Linked DNA regions of Homo sapiens. The protein of the gene in region 1 purifies or fractionates together with the protein of each later gene. This does not show direct contact. Each region holds a gene or a part of one and is shown on either strand. Other genes may lie near its edges.

Region 1 (3,500 bases):
TGTCAGTCTGCTTCTGGCTCCAAAGTTCCTTTGGAGAAAAGTAATTTAAGAAACTCTTTTGTATTAAGCATTTATGTAAATTTTGCTTTCCATCCTGTTTTGTGAAAGAGTTTGTACTCAATACAAAAGGAAGTTTAAAATTACTTAATTGTTATATCTTCATGTAAATATATTCATATTTCAGGAAAATGAGCTGTGTTTGTCTTAGAACTTCCCCTGTGCCCTGTCACTTTTTTTCTGCCTTATCGGCAAGGGTGCTAGAGATCTGCATTGGGAAGCCCAAGTTAAGGATAGCTGTGGTATTGGTCAGAAGAGATCATATTTTAACATTCTTATGTGAAAGAGTTTCATTCCTCTTTTACTTTTTGGTATTTGTTTTAAAATTGATTTGAAATTAAATATGAGAAACTGTTGGCAAGATAATTCCTATTTTTCTTTCTCATTTTCTCTTAATCAGAAAAAGAATAAACCAAAGGAACCACCCAAAGTACCCAAATCAGCACCATTTTTCATTCCAACAATTCCTGGCCTTGTACCCAGATATGCTGCACCTGAACAAAATAATGATCCCCAGCAGGTAAAAAACAAATTAGAAGATTCTAAGTATATCGGTGTATGTTTGTATGTGTTTTCTGCACTTCTTTACCAAGACCTAGTTTTACAGATATAGGGTAAATTAATGATAGCTTTTAATTACAAACTATACATTTTTGGGTGATACTTGAATTATTTGAATAATGTGTATTTGTTTTTGTTTAAGTCTAAAGTGGTAAATCTTGGAGTTTTGGCTCAAAAATCAGATTTCTGCTTGAAACTTGAAGAAGGACTGGTAAATAATAAGTGTAAGTTGAATTATAAGATATTTTAACTAATATATTTAGCTTATTTTACTGTATATGAGGAGAAATTGAAGGAAATATCAGCGTTCTCAGTAGTTAAGATAGTAAAAATCAAAAAGATTGAAATTTTGGTTTTAATTTGACGTAATTTTAGCATTTATATTAAATAAGCCCACTAAACTCAAATGGTATTGATATTATAAAAATCTGTTGAAGATTTTTCATATATCTAACTTACTTTTTGCTATTGGAGATGGACACAGTTATTGACTATATTTATAATAAGGAGATCCTTCTTGTTGTGAATTAAATGTAAAAGTTTTGTTTGTCGTTTTTGTAGCAAGTAATTTGCAAGTCTTTTGTTTTTATTTATAATTTGTAATTCAGCGGACTGCTTAGGTGATTTCATATATTCCTAAATTATTTTATTAAAAAGGAAATGTTTTAATCTGTCTGTTGTGTTCATATATTTAAATTTCGAAGGCTACAGTCTGTAGCTAATAGTGATTAGCCATAAGAACTGTAATCATTTAAAAAACTGTAGTCACTCTCCTAATAATTTTAACTTGTCCTCTTGTTTTGATTCAAATGCTTTTGTTTTCATACCGAGATTACTTGAGTCCACATTAGCAAAAGTCAGAGAATGATACTGATGAGCCCTTGTAAATGACTTGTTATGTTTATGGGGAGACAAAGAAATAAAAACACTATTGTTTACTATATACTGAAGGATCTAAAAGTGATTAGACTTTTGTCATTGGTGATACTCTTTTTCAGAAAGCTAAAGCATAGTCATTGCAGTTCTCAAATGACTCATAAAAATAGCTGTAAGTGTACTGAGTGTGTTTTCCTAGGGTGCATATGAAACAATTCTTCTAGGGAAAAGAAGTAGGTTTGGGCTGGGTAAGAATAAGGGATGGGGTCTTCCCCCTCTGATTTTATATATTCTGTACTGTTAGTAATATAGTTCCTAATGATTATGTACTTTTATAACTTTATAACAATAGAAAAGAAAAATTATTTTACCTCATCAGATTCCCAATGCTAACCACTATTAATACTTTTGTATGTATCGTTATAGGCTTCTTAATTAGGATTTACTCTGAGAGAAGATATATGAGCATTTTAAAATTCTAACGTGCCTGTTGCAAGGCATTAGATTTTCTTTATTAACAGGAAAAAGGTTTAAATTACAGAAAAAAAATGTGTTTTGAGTACTTTCTCTTATATTGGTGTCATCGTTTGTACTGATTTTCAATTATTTTGGGTTTCATTCTACTACATAATATGAAAAAATTAACCCACAGGAAGAATTTCCTGTACCATTTAAATATATCCTATTTGGGGTATAAAAGGAAAACTGTAATTTTCTAAGTTAAATGATTATAATCAAGTCATAACTGGATTAAAATTTAATGCAGATGACACTGCTCTCAACCTTCTGAAAGAATCAGGCCCATCAGGAATTGAAACAGAGCTGCGAAGCTTGTCTCCTGATTGTGGTGGGTCCATAGAAGTTATGCAGAGCTTCTTGAAAATGATTGGGATGATGCTGGACAGAAAGCGTGATTTTGAGTTAGCCCAGGCATACCTTGCATTGTTTCTAAAGGTAAGTCTAATGTAAGACAGTACTGCCCAGCTTGTCTTCTTCTGGGGCAGTGCTATCTAACAGAACTTTCTGCAAAGATGGGTATGCTGTATATCCATCCTTTCCAGTATCATAGCCACTTGCCACATGTAGCTATTGAGTTCTTGAAATGTAAATAGTGTGATCAAGAAACTGGATTTTTAATTTTATAGAATTTTAATTAATTTAAATTTAAATAACCGCATGTGGCTAGTGACTACCACATTGGACAGCTAGACAGTGCAGCTTGGGAGTCTTGTTTTGTTTTTTTACTCAACTGCACAATAATTTTGACTTTACCCCCTGACATTTTTATGCTATCTGCTTGATCCAATGTGCTGAACCATTAACTTTTCTTTTTTTAGTGGTTAGTTACATTTTGGAAGTTTTTTGTGATTATGAATAGAAAGTTGGGTTTGTTTGTTTTTTTTTCTACTACTGAAATCAAAATGTTCACTTCTATCATTATTAAAGGAGTTTTGATCATTTGACAATAAGACTGTTACTTTTATGATTAATATAGTGGTGAACTCATGTTTTGAGGGTCTACTTTAGTGGTATAATGTGTTGAAGGAGGTAGATGATGCCGATTTTTGGTGATAATAGATTTGATTCTTTATCCCATTTATACCTAAAATGAGTTCACTTGATCTGATTATTTAAAAGTATCAGGACTGTCCTTAGGTGGAGAGGAGTGATGACCACTTTAATTCTACCAAGGAAGTCACAGTATCATAAAGGACCTTATAATAAAAAAAGTTTGATAGAGGAGGGGAAAATGGGAGATAGTAATAAACCAGCGCTTAAGAAAACAAATATTCACCTAGTGTCTTTTGTGGTTCCTTGGTAGAAAAATTGAATCCAGATTAGGTAAAATTTTAATTTTCTTAAATGTTCAATCATCATATTTTTCTTTGCAGTTACACCTTAAAATGCTTCCTTCAGAGCCAGTACTCCTAGAAGAAATAACAAATTTGTCATCCCAGGTGGAAGAAAACTGGACCCATTTGCAATCACTCTTCAATCAAAGCATG
Region 2 (3,500 bases), on another chromosome or scaffold:
AGAGAAGGGCGGTGGCATGGAGGGGATGCAATCTGAGGCCAGGGATCCTCGGCCTCAGCTCTACTGACCGGTGCTGAACCCTGGGCCCTGAGGGGTGCTCAGCAGCAACCCTGGCCCCCACCCACTCCATCTCAGGAGCACCCCCCCGAATTGTGACCACCACAGATGTCCCCAGACAGTGCCAGTGTCCCATGGGTCAAGACTGCCCCCAGATGAGACTCTATGTCTAACAAAATGCTATTACAAAAGATGGCTGCTCCGTGTTTGTTTGGAAGGGTGTTTCACCTGGAAACAGCAAACACTCACACACACTGAAAGCCACACCTGACACGAGACCAGCACACACTGCAAGCCTGCACCCCAGCACAGGCCCCATGCTGCAGGCAGGAGGCGAGGAGGGCCCTGCACTCGGGTCAGAAGGCGCCGCCCCTTGGTAACTTTGCACCCAAGACACAAGGTCCCTCAGGCCATAAACATCTCAACTATGAAACAGAAAAGCAAGCCTCAGCTCTCAGCGAGGATGCCGGGAAGACCAAGACGGCCGAGAAGGAGTCTGAAACGCCACAGGTCACTGCCCAGATGAGAACTGGCTCGGTACTACTGTTTGGGGTTGTGTTTTGTTTTTTCAGATGGAGTCTTGCTCTGTTGCCCAGGCTGGAGTGCAGTGGCGCAATCTTGGCTCACTGCAAGCTCCGCCTCCCGGGCCCAAGTGTTTCTCCTGCCTCAGCCTCCCAAGTAGCTAGGACTACAGGCATGCGCCACCACGCCTGGCTAATTTTGTATTTTTAGTAGAGATGGTGTTTCTCCATGTTGGTTAGGCTGGTGTCAAATTCCTCACCTCAGGTGATCTACCTGCCTCAGCTTCCCAAAGCGCTGGGATTACAGGCGTGAGCCACCGCGCCCGGCCTGTTTTGCGTTTTGTAAGGAAGGCAAAAATGACAACCACAGCCCTGGCTCGCCAAGGACCCCCATGGAGCTCTGCAGAGGCAATATGGATACACTGATGGGGGAGGGAGGTGGCTCACACCTATGCACCCAGGCATGCACACATACATATGCATTAACGTGCATATATGCACACAATGCACACGTGCACACCCACACATACATGTATGCATGCATGTACATCAGCACACACGTGCATGGTGCACGCACACATGCATGTACATGTACACACACATGCAGCCCGTACACAGCTGGGTGGCTGGCATGTTAACCCATGTGCACCACTCCCGCTGGGTGAAGCCACTCGTGTCTCCCACATAACCCACCAAAGCCAGGAGAGGTTGCAGAGGGAGGCAGGAGCCCAGCAGGAGTTCTGGGCCACCGGAAGCCAAGCCAGGCCCAGGTGGCCCCGGGCCTCTGGTGGCCCTGAGGTGCTGGCCACTGTTAAGCCCTGCCGTACAGAGGCCAAGGGCGAGGCTCTGGACAGCACTCAAGCCAGGCAACGTGACTACATTTGGGTTTTCAAGATGCTTTGGTCCCAGCCTGCTTTTCAAATCGCCCTGTCTCCCCGCGCCAACTCAGCTGCTGCCGCCTCCCGTCACACAGCGTCTTGGAGCTGGGACGCAGGGGTCCACACACAGTGGACCCAATGTCTGAATGCCTGGGTCCTGCCTGAGACCTCACACCCCGCGGCTGGGGCTCAACATCCAGGGCCCTGGTCAGCAGAGACTCGCTCCCACCCGACCGGCAGCCATGTGGCCCCAAAGCCACAGCCCCAACTCGGGCCTCAGCCCACATGGCTCCACCCTGACCCAGCCTGCCCCACCTGCAGCCACACTCCACCTGAAAGACATCTGAGCTGGAACGCTCTTTTGGCTCCAAAATCTTCAACAGCTGCCCACTGGAAAGAAATGCCAGCCCACTCCTCCTGAGACAATGTGTGAGCCCCTCCGAGATGCCGCCTCACTCTGGACTCGTCCACAGCCCCTTGCCGGCCCTCATCTCCCGGTCTCAGGCCACTGCAGGGCACCTGCCAGGACAGAGCCTTCTGTCCACTCCTCACCGCACACCAAGCACCACGGCAGCTTTACTCGTAAAAGCCAAAAAGCCAAAGCTCCAGAGACCCTTCAGCAGGTGCACGGGTGCAAAGACCCCACGCACAGACCGCTGCTCGGCGCTGGGCAGGAATGGACCACTGACCACACCGCCACCCCAAGGGCAACGCACCAAGTGGTCCCACCCATAGCAATGAATGTCTGTGATCCCCCCAAATTCCTATGTTAAAATTCTCACCCCTAAGACAGTGGTGTTGGGAGGCGGGATCAGCTTCTTCCGCCACGGAGCTCTTGGGGGGCTCTTTCATGAGGGCACTGATGGTTCCAGGAGGGATCCCGTCCGCATGAGGACACAGCAAGAAGGCACCGCTGTCTATGAACCAGGAAACACAACCACCCCCTACACCAAATCCACAGCGCCGCTGTCTATGTACCAGGAAGCACAACCCCCCCTTCCCCCCAACCCCCCAAATCCACAGAACCTTGATCTTGGACGTCCAGCCTCCAGAACCATGAGACAAACTCGGGTAGTTTACAAGCCACTGTGCCTGCAGTATTGTCACAGCAGCCCGAGCTGACTGAGACGGTGACAAAATGTTAGGAAAAGAGAACACTGCAGGAAGCCAGGGATCCAGCCAGGGGTCCGGCCATGAAAGGGCAGCTGGGAGGGTCCTGCAGGACAGATGCTGCCTGGCCCCTGCCTGTGGCAGGGGAGCACGCACTCCACGGGTGACGAGTCAAACCCAACTTCACATGCACCCCTCCCACCCTCCCTCCCTGCCACGAGGCCACACCCACCACCGGTCCCGCTGTGAGACCCCCAGGTTCCTGCCTCAGACTGGGTCTGGAGCTGGTGAGCTCAGCCTCCCAGGAGGCCGTCGTGGGCACTGGCAGCTGTGTGCGACCCTTGCTTCAGCACCAGAGTTAAATATAAACTACCCCTTCCATCAGGTCCTTCCCCTTCCCAAACGCCCGGAGAACCCCCACTGCAGAAATCCAAGAGCCCGGCGTTCAGGAAGCGCCCAGCACCCCCACAGCACAGGCCCTTTGAGGGTGGCTCTGCCATTCCCTCCTCAGTGAGGTGTGGCAGTGCCCGTCTGCAGCCTGCCTCGCCAGCTTCCTGAGCGCAGGGGCTGTGGCTGCCCTGCCCACCTGCATCCCTAGCCCCTATGCAGAAGGCGCTGTGTACATGTTTCCTGAGCGAACCAAATGAACCTGGCCCTGGTCCACAGTGCTGGATCCCTCATGTCCCCATTGGGTCCCCCGCACTCCAGTGCCCGTCAGGATGGACCTGACTGCATGTCACCAGCCATGGCTCCTGGGAGAATGGGGCCCACATCTCCCACACCTGAGGGAGCCCCCCACACAACCACAAGCAAGGTGCTTTGCCTGTGCAAGCATGGTTCCTGGTGGGCCTGCCACAGGCCGCCCCACAGTGGACCCCAGACGCTAGGGAGCCTGCAGGAGGTACATCCTCAGGTACACTCAGCACGCCACCAC
Region 3 (3,500 bases), on another chromosome or scaffold:
GCTGAACTATCTGATCTTCATTCATGTCCCAGAGGTACGTACAAATGAGCAGCAAAAGCGAGGCATGGTGGCGCACATTTGCAATCCCAGCACTTTAAAGACGGAGGCAGGCGGATCACTTGAGGCCAGGAGTTCAAGACCAGCCTGGCCAACATGGCAAAACCCTGTCTCTACTAAAAATACAAAAATTAGCTGGGCATGGTGGTGGGCACTTCTTATCCCAGCTACTTGGGAGGCTGAGACAGGAGAATCGCTTGAACCTGGGAGGTGGAGGTTGCAGTGAGCCAAGTTTGCACCACTGCACTCCAGCCTGGGCAACAGAACAAGACTTCATCTCAAAAAAAAGGAAAAACCACCAAATGAGCAGTAGTTTTTTTCCTACTTTATCTTCTGGAATACGTTTTACCTACTAATATAAAAAATTCACTGCAAAGTGAATCTGGCCATACACCGTGGCTCACGCCTGTAATCTCAGCACTTTGGGAGGCCAAGGCGGGCAGATCACTTGAGGCTAGGAGTTCCAGACCAGCCTGGCCAACATGGAGATATCCTGTCTCTACTAAAATAGAAAATATTAGTCAGGTGTGATGGCATGCGCCTGTAGTCCCAGCTACTCGGGAGGCTGAGGCAGGAGAATTGCCTGAACCCGGGAGGCAGAGATTGCAGTGAGCTGAGATCACGCCACTGCACTCCAGCCTGGACAACAGAGCGAGACTCCATCTTAAAAAAAAAAAAAAAAAAGGTTGGGCTTATATTCAGCAAGTGACATTAATATTCTACTGGTATTTCTAACTTTATAAGATATCTAAATAGAATAGGAAGTTTTATTTAATTTGGTTAACTTTCAAATAAAGGATATTAAATAGAAGCAAATTCTTCTACTCTTAACCTATGAACCATCACCACTGAATAGCAAATGCCACTCTAGAGTTGGCTCTCAATAGACAAGTACATTCCAAATGAGCCTTGGCTAGTCTTAAAAGGTTTCCCAAATATAATGAATACAAAAGATCCAGCTCACTGACCTGGGGTTTCAGGTGCACAAAGGCTTCTTCAAAAAGCATGGCTATGTCAGGGCTCTTTGACTCGATCAGCACCTGCAGCTTCAGCTGCCACATTGTCCCAGAGTCTCTAAACAATTCAGTTCCAGCTACTGCCACTTCCAGAGCTTCCCTCAGGAAGTTATAACACAGCAACGAAACACTCTAGACAAGATGAAGGATGACTGGAAAATTAATTACTGAAACCCAAACAATCTATGTAAATGTAAACCTATGCCTCATTTGAGGCAAGAATTTCACCAACCTTTCCACTACAATTTAAAATAAAAAAGAGGCCAGGTGTGGTGGCTCACACCTGTAACCCCAGCACTTTGGGAGGCCCAGGCGGGCACATCACGAGCTCAGGAGATCAAGACCATCCCGGCCAACATGGTGAAACCCCGTCTCTACTAAAAACACAAAAATTAGCTGGGTGTGGTGGTATGCATCTGTAATCCCAGCTACTCGGAAGGCTGAGGCAGAAGAATCGCTTGAATCCAGGAGGTGGAGATTGCAGTGAGCTGAGATCACACCACTGCACTCCAACCTCGGCGACAGAGCAACTCTATCTCAAAAAAAAAAAAAAAAAAGAAAAGAAATGAGCTATGTGATAACTTATAGGTATCAAAACAAATTTTCCATGGCTGTTAAACAGGCACGAAGTGAACAATTTAGAATTTCTCCTATTTTCACTGCTCCTACCCATGAGGGTTATCCAAAAACAGGGAAGACGTAAAAACCAGAGAACCTAAAGAATTTAGACTGTAAGTTAGGTTTTTTTGTTTTTCTTTTTCTTTTTTTTGGAGACAGAGTTTTGCTCTGTAACCCAGCCTGGAGTACAGTGGCGCAATGATCTCGGCTCACTGCAACCTCCAACTCCTGGGTTCAAGCAATTCTCCTCCCTCAGCCTCCCGAGTAGCTGGGACGACAGGCGCCCATCGCCACGCCTGGTTAATTTTTTGTATTTTAGTAGAAATGGGGTTTCACCATGTTGGCCAGGCTGGTCTTAAACTCCTGACCTCAGATGATCCACCCACCTCGGCCTCCCAAAGTGCTGGGATTACAGGCGTGAGCCACCATGCCCAGCATATAAGTTTTTAATAAAACAGTTCACAGCCAGGCATGGTGGCTCACGCCTGTAATCCCAGCACTTTGGGAGGCTGAGGCAGGCAGATCACCTAAGGTCGGGAGTTCAAGACCAGCCTGACCAACATGGAGAAACCCTGTCACTACTAAAAATACAAAATTAGCCAGGCGTGGTGGTGCATGCTTGTAATTCCGGCTACTCGGGAGGCTGAGTCAGGAGAATTGCTTGAACCCAGGAGGCGGAGGTTGAGGTGAGCCAAGATCATGCCATTGCACTCCAGCCTGGGCAACAAGAGCGAAACTCCGTCTCAAAAAAATAATAAATAAATAAAAACAAAACAGTTCACTATGCCAGAACACATGCTCACCAAACAGAGGATGAAAATTAACAAATAGGCTGCGCTCAGTGGCTCACGCCTGTAATCCCAGCACTTTGGGAGGCCAAGGCAGGCAGATCACCTGAGGTCAAGAGCTCAAGACCAGCTTAGCCAACATGGTGAAACCTTGTTTCTACTAAAAATACAAAAATTAGCTAGGTGTGTTGGTGCACGCCTGTAATCCCAGCTACTCGGGAGGATGAGTTGGGAGAATCACTTAAACCTGGGAGGAGGAAGTTGCAGTGGGCCAAGATCATGCCACTACACTCCAGGCTGGGTGACAGAGCAAGACTCTGTCTCCAAAAAAATTTTAAAAATCAATAAACAAAAATCAATCCACAAAATCAGTATTTGTGGAGTGTCAAGGAAACAGGTATATTCAAACAGAGTTGGACATAACATAAACTAAAGCAAATTTTTCTGAAATTCAATTTGACAGTTTGTAGCAAGAGTCATGAAAGTGCTCAACGCTTCAATTTGGGACTTCTACATTAACAAATATGGTCCAAAAAATACATGAATGAAAGGAAATTTTACCTGTTCAAAATGCTTATACCTACATTATTTGAAAAAGAGAAAAAACCTAAAAACAATCCAATTGTACAAATTTGTGAAAAATTAAATGACAGTATATAATCAGTACATTCAGCAAGCATTTTTATTGCACACTATATGTGCTAGATTCAATAGTGAACAAATCAGATGCATTCCCTACCACCCATAGAGCCTCCAGTCTAAGAGACAAAACGGTTTGATATGTTTCTTCCGACAGAAGATGAATCATCTAGGCTGGGCACAGTGGCTCACGCCTGAAAGACCAAGTTAGAAAGCCAGGCACGGCCAGGAGCAGTGGATCATGCCTGTAATCTCAGCACTTTGGGAGGCTGAGGCAGTCAGATCGCTTGAGGTCAGGAGCTCAAGACCAGCCTGGCCAACATAGTGAAACTCTGTCCCTACTAAAAATACAAAAATTTGGCCAGGCATGATGGCTCATGCC
Region 4 (4,030 bases), on another chromosome or scaffold:
TAGCACAGCATCTGGCATACAGATGCTCAACTAATTATTTGTTGAAACTAATGTCCTGCATAAAAGTAGTGTAATTTACTTTTTTTTTTTTTTTTTGAGATGGAGTCTTGCTCTGTCGCCCAGGCTGGAGTGAAACGGCCGATCTCGGCTCACCGTAACCTCCGCCTCCCAGGTTCAAGCGATTCTCCTGCGTCAGCCTCCTGAGTAGCTGGGATTACAGGCGCCCATCACCATGCCTGGCTAATTTTTGTATTTTTAGTAGAGACGGGGTTTCGCCATGTTGGCCAGGCTGGTCTCGAACTCCTGACGTGCCCACCTCGGCCTCCCAAAGTGCTGGGATTACAGGCGTGAGCCACCACACCCGGCCTTATTTATTTATTTATTTAGAGACAGTCTCGCTCTGTCCCTCAGGCTGGAGTGCAATGGCGTGATCTCAGCTCACTGCAACCTCCACCTCCCGGGTTCAAGCGATTCTCCTGCCTCAGCCTCCCAAGTAGCTGGGATTACAGGTATGTGCCACAACGCCCAGCTAATTTTTTATATTTTTAGTGGAGACGGGGTTTCACCATGTTGGCCAGGCTGGTCTCAAACTGCTGACCTCAAGTGATCCGCCCGCTTCGGCTTCCCAAAGTGCTGGGATTACAGGCGTGAGCCACCGCTCCCGACCCCTAATTTACATTTTTAAAAACCCTAGCAGGGGCCGGGAACCATGGCTCACGCCTGTAATCCCAATGCTTGGGAGGCCAAAGTGGGAGAATCGCTTGAGCCCAAGAGTTCAAGATCAGCCTGGGCAACCTGGCAAGACCTCGTCTCTACAAAAAATTTAAAAATTATCCAGGCCTATTGGTGCATGTCTGTAGACGCAGCTACTTGGGAGGCTGAGGTGGGAGGATAGCTTGAGCCCAGGACGAGGCTGCGGTGAGTCGTGATCGTACCGCTGCACTCCAGCCTGGGCGACAGAACGAAACCGTTTCAACAGAACAACAAAGACAAAAACCTCCAAAACACCCTAACAGTTAAATTTCCTCAGTCCAGAAGCTGATTGCAGTCCAGTTCGCAATTGGCCAGGCTCTAGTTTATATAGGACCTGAGGCTCCACCCATGTGCAGGCACCGCCCCCGTGGCGTCACGAGCGAGCAATGGCGTCATTGGAACGACATGAGCATGCGCACTTCCCCAGCACAATCAGGGAAGACACGCGTGACCCGGAAGGTCTTCCCGCCACACTCCAGAGCGGATGTGAGGGGCGCCGATGGCGGAGGGAACGGCGGAGGCTCCTCTAGAGAATGGTGGTGGTGGCGACTCGGGAGCCGGAGCTTTGGAACGAGGAGTGGCGCCCATTAAGCGTCAGTGAGTCGCCGGGGCAGGAGGGAAGCTGAAGGGCCTTTTCCGGCACCCATAGCGCGGTCCGAGCTGTGCATGCCGGGAGATTAGGCAGCGGCTGAGGGCGAGAAGCCACCGGCTCTTCATTCCGGGCCGTTCTTCCGCCTGCAGGGTGGTCAGCGGAGGTACCTGAGATCGTGCACGTTGGGGCCTGTCACATGCGCGAAGGACACCACGTGCATGCTAGGGCAGGTGGGATTTGAGGCCAGGCCCGCGCTGCATACTGGGGATTGTAGTCCCTGCATATGGACGTACGGCGCATGTGCTCTGCCAGCGGCCGTTACTGGCGGGTCTTGGGGTTGAAGCGAGTGCCGCGGGGCGTGCTGGGGCCTGCGGTGTTTGAAGGGCCGAAAGGCGTGCTGGGAAATGTGGTGGCTTAGACTCCGCTTCAAGGCATGCTGGGAATTGTAGTTTTTCGCAGCCTAACGTGCGCAGGGACGTTCTTGACTGAACCTGATAATAGTTTCGCGCAACACTTTGGACAGTGAGGACCCAGGGACAAAATAGGTCTTTTTTGAGGCCGTGAGGGGCTCCCAGGCTGGGAGCTGGCTGGTTCTTAAGTAGTGAGCTCCCCATCAGCAGAAGGATTTAAGGACGTGCAAGTGTTTCTAGCCTCCTTTCCCCAGTGTTTATTGACTATGTTCGGAGGGTTTTCCTTTCCCTTTCTGTCGGCAGATACCTCACCACCAAGGAGCAGTTTCACCAATTCCTGGAAGCCAAAGGGCAGGAGAAGACTTGCCGGGAAACCGAGGTAGGAGACCCTGCTGGCAATGAGCTGGCTGAGCCTGAGGCTAAGCGGATCCGACTGGAGGATGGACAGACGGCGGACGGGCAGACGGAGGAGGCAGCAGAGCCCGGGGAGCAGCTACAGACTCAGAAGAGGGCCCGGGGACAAAACAAGGGCCGGCCCCATGTGAAGCCCACGAACTACGACAAGAACAGGCTGTGTCCCTCCCTAATCCAGGCAAGTGCGGCCACGTGAGCATTCCTGCCGGGGCAGGCAGGAGCAGGGTGTGTTTCCTGGCAGCGGGTAATTGTTAGAAAGCTCCTGGGCCTTCAGCAACGAGCAGTGAGCTTGCTCTGATGCCATTCCGTCTTCATTCTCCTCGGGATACATTGTAGGGCTTGTCATTGTTCTCATTGTATAAATGGAGATGCAGAGGCACGGTGAGGTGCCTGACTTGCTCAGGGACACAAGAGCCAGGAGGGGTGATCTAGAGTTTGAACCCTGGCTGCTGGGCTGCCCCGGGGTCTCCCTGTCCTCCCTCACTGCTTCCCTGTTTCCTCGCAGGAGTCGGCTGCTAAGTGTTTCTTCGGTGATCGCTGCCGCTTTCTGCACGACGTGGGGCGCTACCTGGAGACCAAGCCGGCCGACCTGGGCCCCCGCTGCGTGCTCTTCGAGACCTTCGGCCGGTGCCCCTACGGCGTGACCTGCCGCTTCGCTGGGGCCCACCTGAGGCCCGAGGGACAGAACCTGGTGCAGGAGGAGTTGGCGGCCCGCGGGACCCAGCCCCCGTCCATCCGCAACGGCCTGGACAAAGCCCTGCAGCAGCAGCTGCGGAAGCGCGAGGTCCGCTTCGAGCGAGCTGAGCAGGCCCTGCGCCGGTTCAGCCAGGGCCCCACACCCGCTGCCGCTGTCCCCGAGGGCACGGCAGCCGAGGGCGCTCCCAGGCAGGAAAACTGTGGTGCCCAGCAGGTCCCCGCAGGGCCGGGCACTAGCACCCCTCCCAGCAGCCCCGTGCGGACCTGCGGGCCCCTGACGGATGAGGACGTGGTCAGGCTGCGGCCCTGTGAGAAGAAGCGGGTACGTGTTGAGGACAACGTCAGTAGCAGATCTGTCCATCTGGTGTGCGTCTATTAAATACCAGCTGTGTCCACGTTCCTGTTCTAGCTGCCTGGGAGTCAGAGGCTGTGTGCCTTGAGGGAGCTCCTGGCTGAGTCTCCCTCTCTGTGCTCTGTCCTGGGCCCAGCCCTCAGGAGGTGGGGACAGAAAGAGCTGGACAGGGCCGGGGGCGGTGGCTCACGCCTGTAATCCCAGCACTTTGGGAGGCTGAGGCAGGCAGATCATTTGAAGTCGGGAGTTCAAAACCAGCCTAGCCATCATGGTGAAACCCTATCTCTACTAAAAATACAAAAATTAGCCGGGCCTGGTGGCGGGCACCTGTAATTCCAGCCACTCAGGAGGCTGAGGCAGGAGAATCACTTGAACCCAGGAGGCGGATGTTGCAGTGAGCCAAGATTGTGCCACCGCACTCCAGCCTGGGCAACAGAGCAAGACTCTATCTCAAAAAAAAAAAAAAAAAAAGAGCTGGACACACTCTAAGTCTCAGAGGGTCAGGGTCGGGCAGCGGGGGACAAATGTGGGAGGCTTCCTGGAAGAGGGGGCATTGGGACTGGGTTTGGATGGTTAAGTAGAAGCTCTCCAGTGGAGGAGACGATGAGGAAAGGAACATTCCTGATGAAGGGATTGATTGGCACATGCAGAGGCCCAGCAAAGGAGCCAGACCATTTGGGCCAAGTGTGTCCTAGACTGTGGGTAGAAGGGAGGCTCCAGGGCCTCAGCAGCTGGGGTGGAGGCCAAGCTCCACTTGTGTGTATTTTTTTCCCTCCAGCTGGACATCCGTGGCAAACTTTACCTGGCCCCCCT

The links. The genes of interacting proteins can lie anywhere in the genome.
Region 2: the proteins of WDR36 (region 1) and GNA11 purify together in Homo sapiens (affinity purification with mass spectrometry; one large-scale study listed by BioGRID and IntAct). This does not show direct contact.
Region 3: the proteins of WDR36 (region 1) and UTP6 purify together in Homo sapiens (affinity purification with western blotting, with the first as the bait; one study listed by BioGRID). This does not show direct contact.
Region 4: the proteins of WDR36 (region 1) and DUS3L fractionate together in Homo sapiens (co-fractionation; one large-scale study listed by BioGRID). This does not show direct contact.

What each region holds. Positions count from the first base shown.
Region 1 is NC_000005.10:111,123,348-111,126,847, forward strand, and holds part of WDR36 (WD repeat-containing protein 36), read left to right. Parts: intron 1-457; coding exon 458-577; intron 578-760; coding exon 761-842; intron 843-2,260; coding exon 2,261-2,448; intron 2,449-3,386; coding exon 3,387-3,500. UniProt on the Homo sapiens protein: Part of the small subunit (SSU) processome, first precursor of the small eukaryotic ribosomal subunit.
Region 2 is NC_000019.10:3,104,362-3,107,861, reverse strand, and holds part of GNA11 (guanine nucleotide-binding protein subunit alpha-11), read right to left. Parts: intron 1-3,500. UniProt on the Homo sapiens protein: Guanine nucleotide-binding proteins (G proteins) function as transducers downstream of G protein-coupled receptors (GPCRs) in numerous signaling cascades.
Region 3 is NC_000017.11:31,874,209-31,877,708, forward strand, and holds part of UTP6 (U3 small nucleolar RNA-associated protein 6 homolog), read right to left. Parts: intron 1,206-3,500; coding exon 1,026-1,205; intron 1-1,025. UniProt on the Homo sapiens protein: Part of the small subunit (SSU) processome, first precursor of the small eukaryotic ribosomal subunit.
Region 4 is NC_000019.10:5,788,364-5,792,393, reverse strand, and holds the start of DUS3L (tRNA-dihydrouridine(47) synthase [NAD(P)(+)]-like), read left to right. Parts: upstream 1-1,230; 5' UTR 1,231-1,252; coding exon 1,253-1,350; intron 1,351-2,058; coding exon 2,059-2,347; intron 2,348-2,674; coding exon 2,675-3,187; intron 3,188-3,995; coding exon 3,996-4,030. UniProt on the Homo sapiens protein: Catalyzes the synthesis of dihydrouridine, a modified base, in various RNAs, such as tRNAs, mRNAs and some long non-coding RNAs (lncRNAs). Mainly modifies the uridine in position 47 (U47) in the D-loop of most cytoplasmic tRNAs.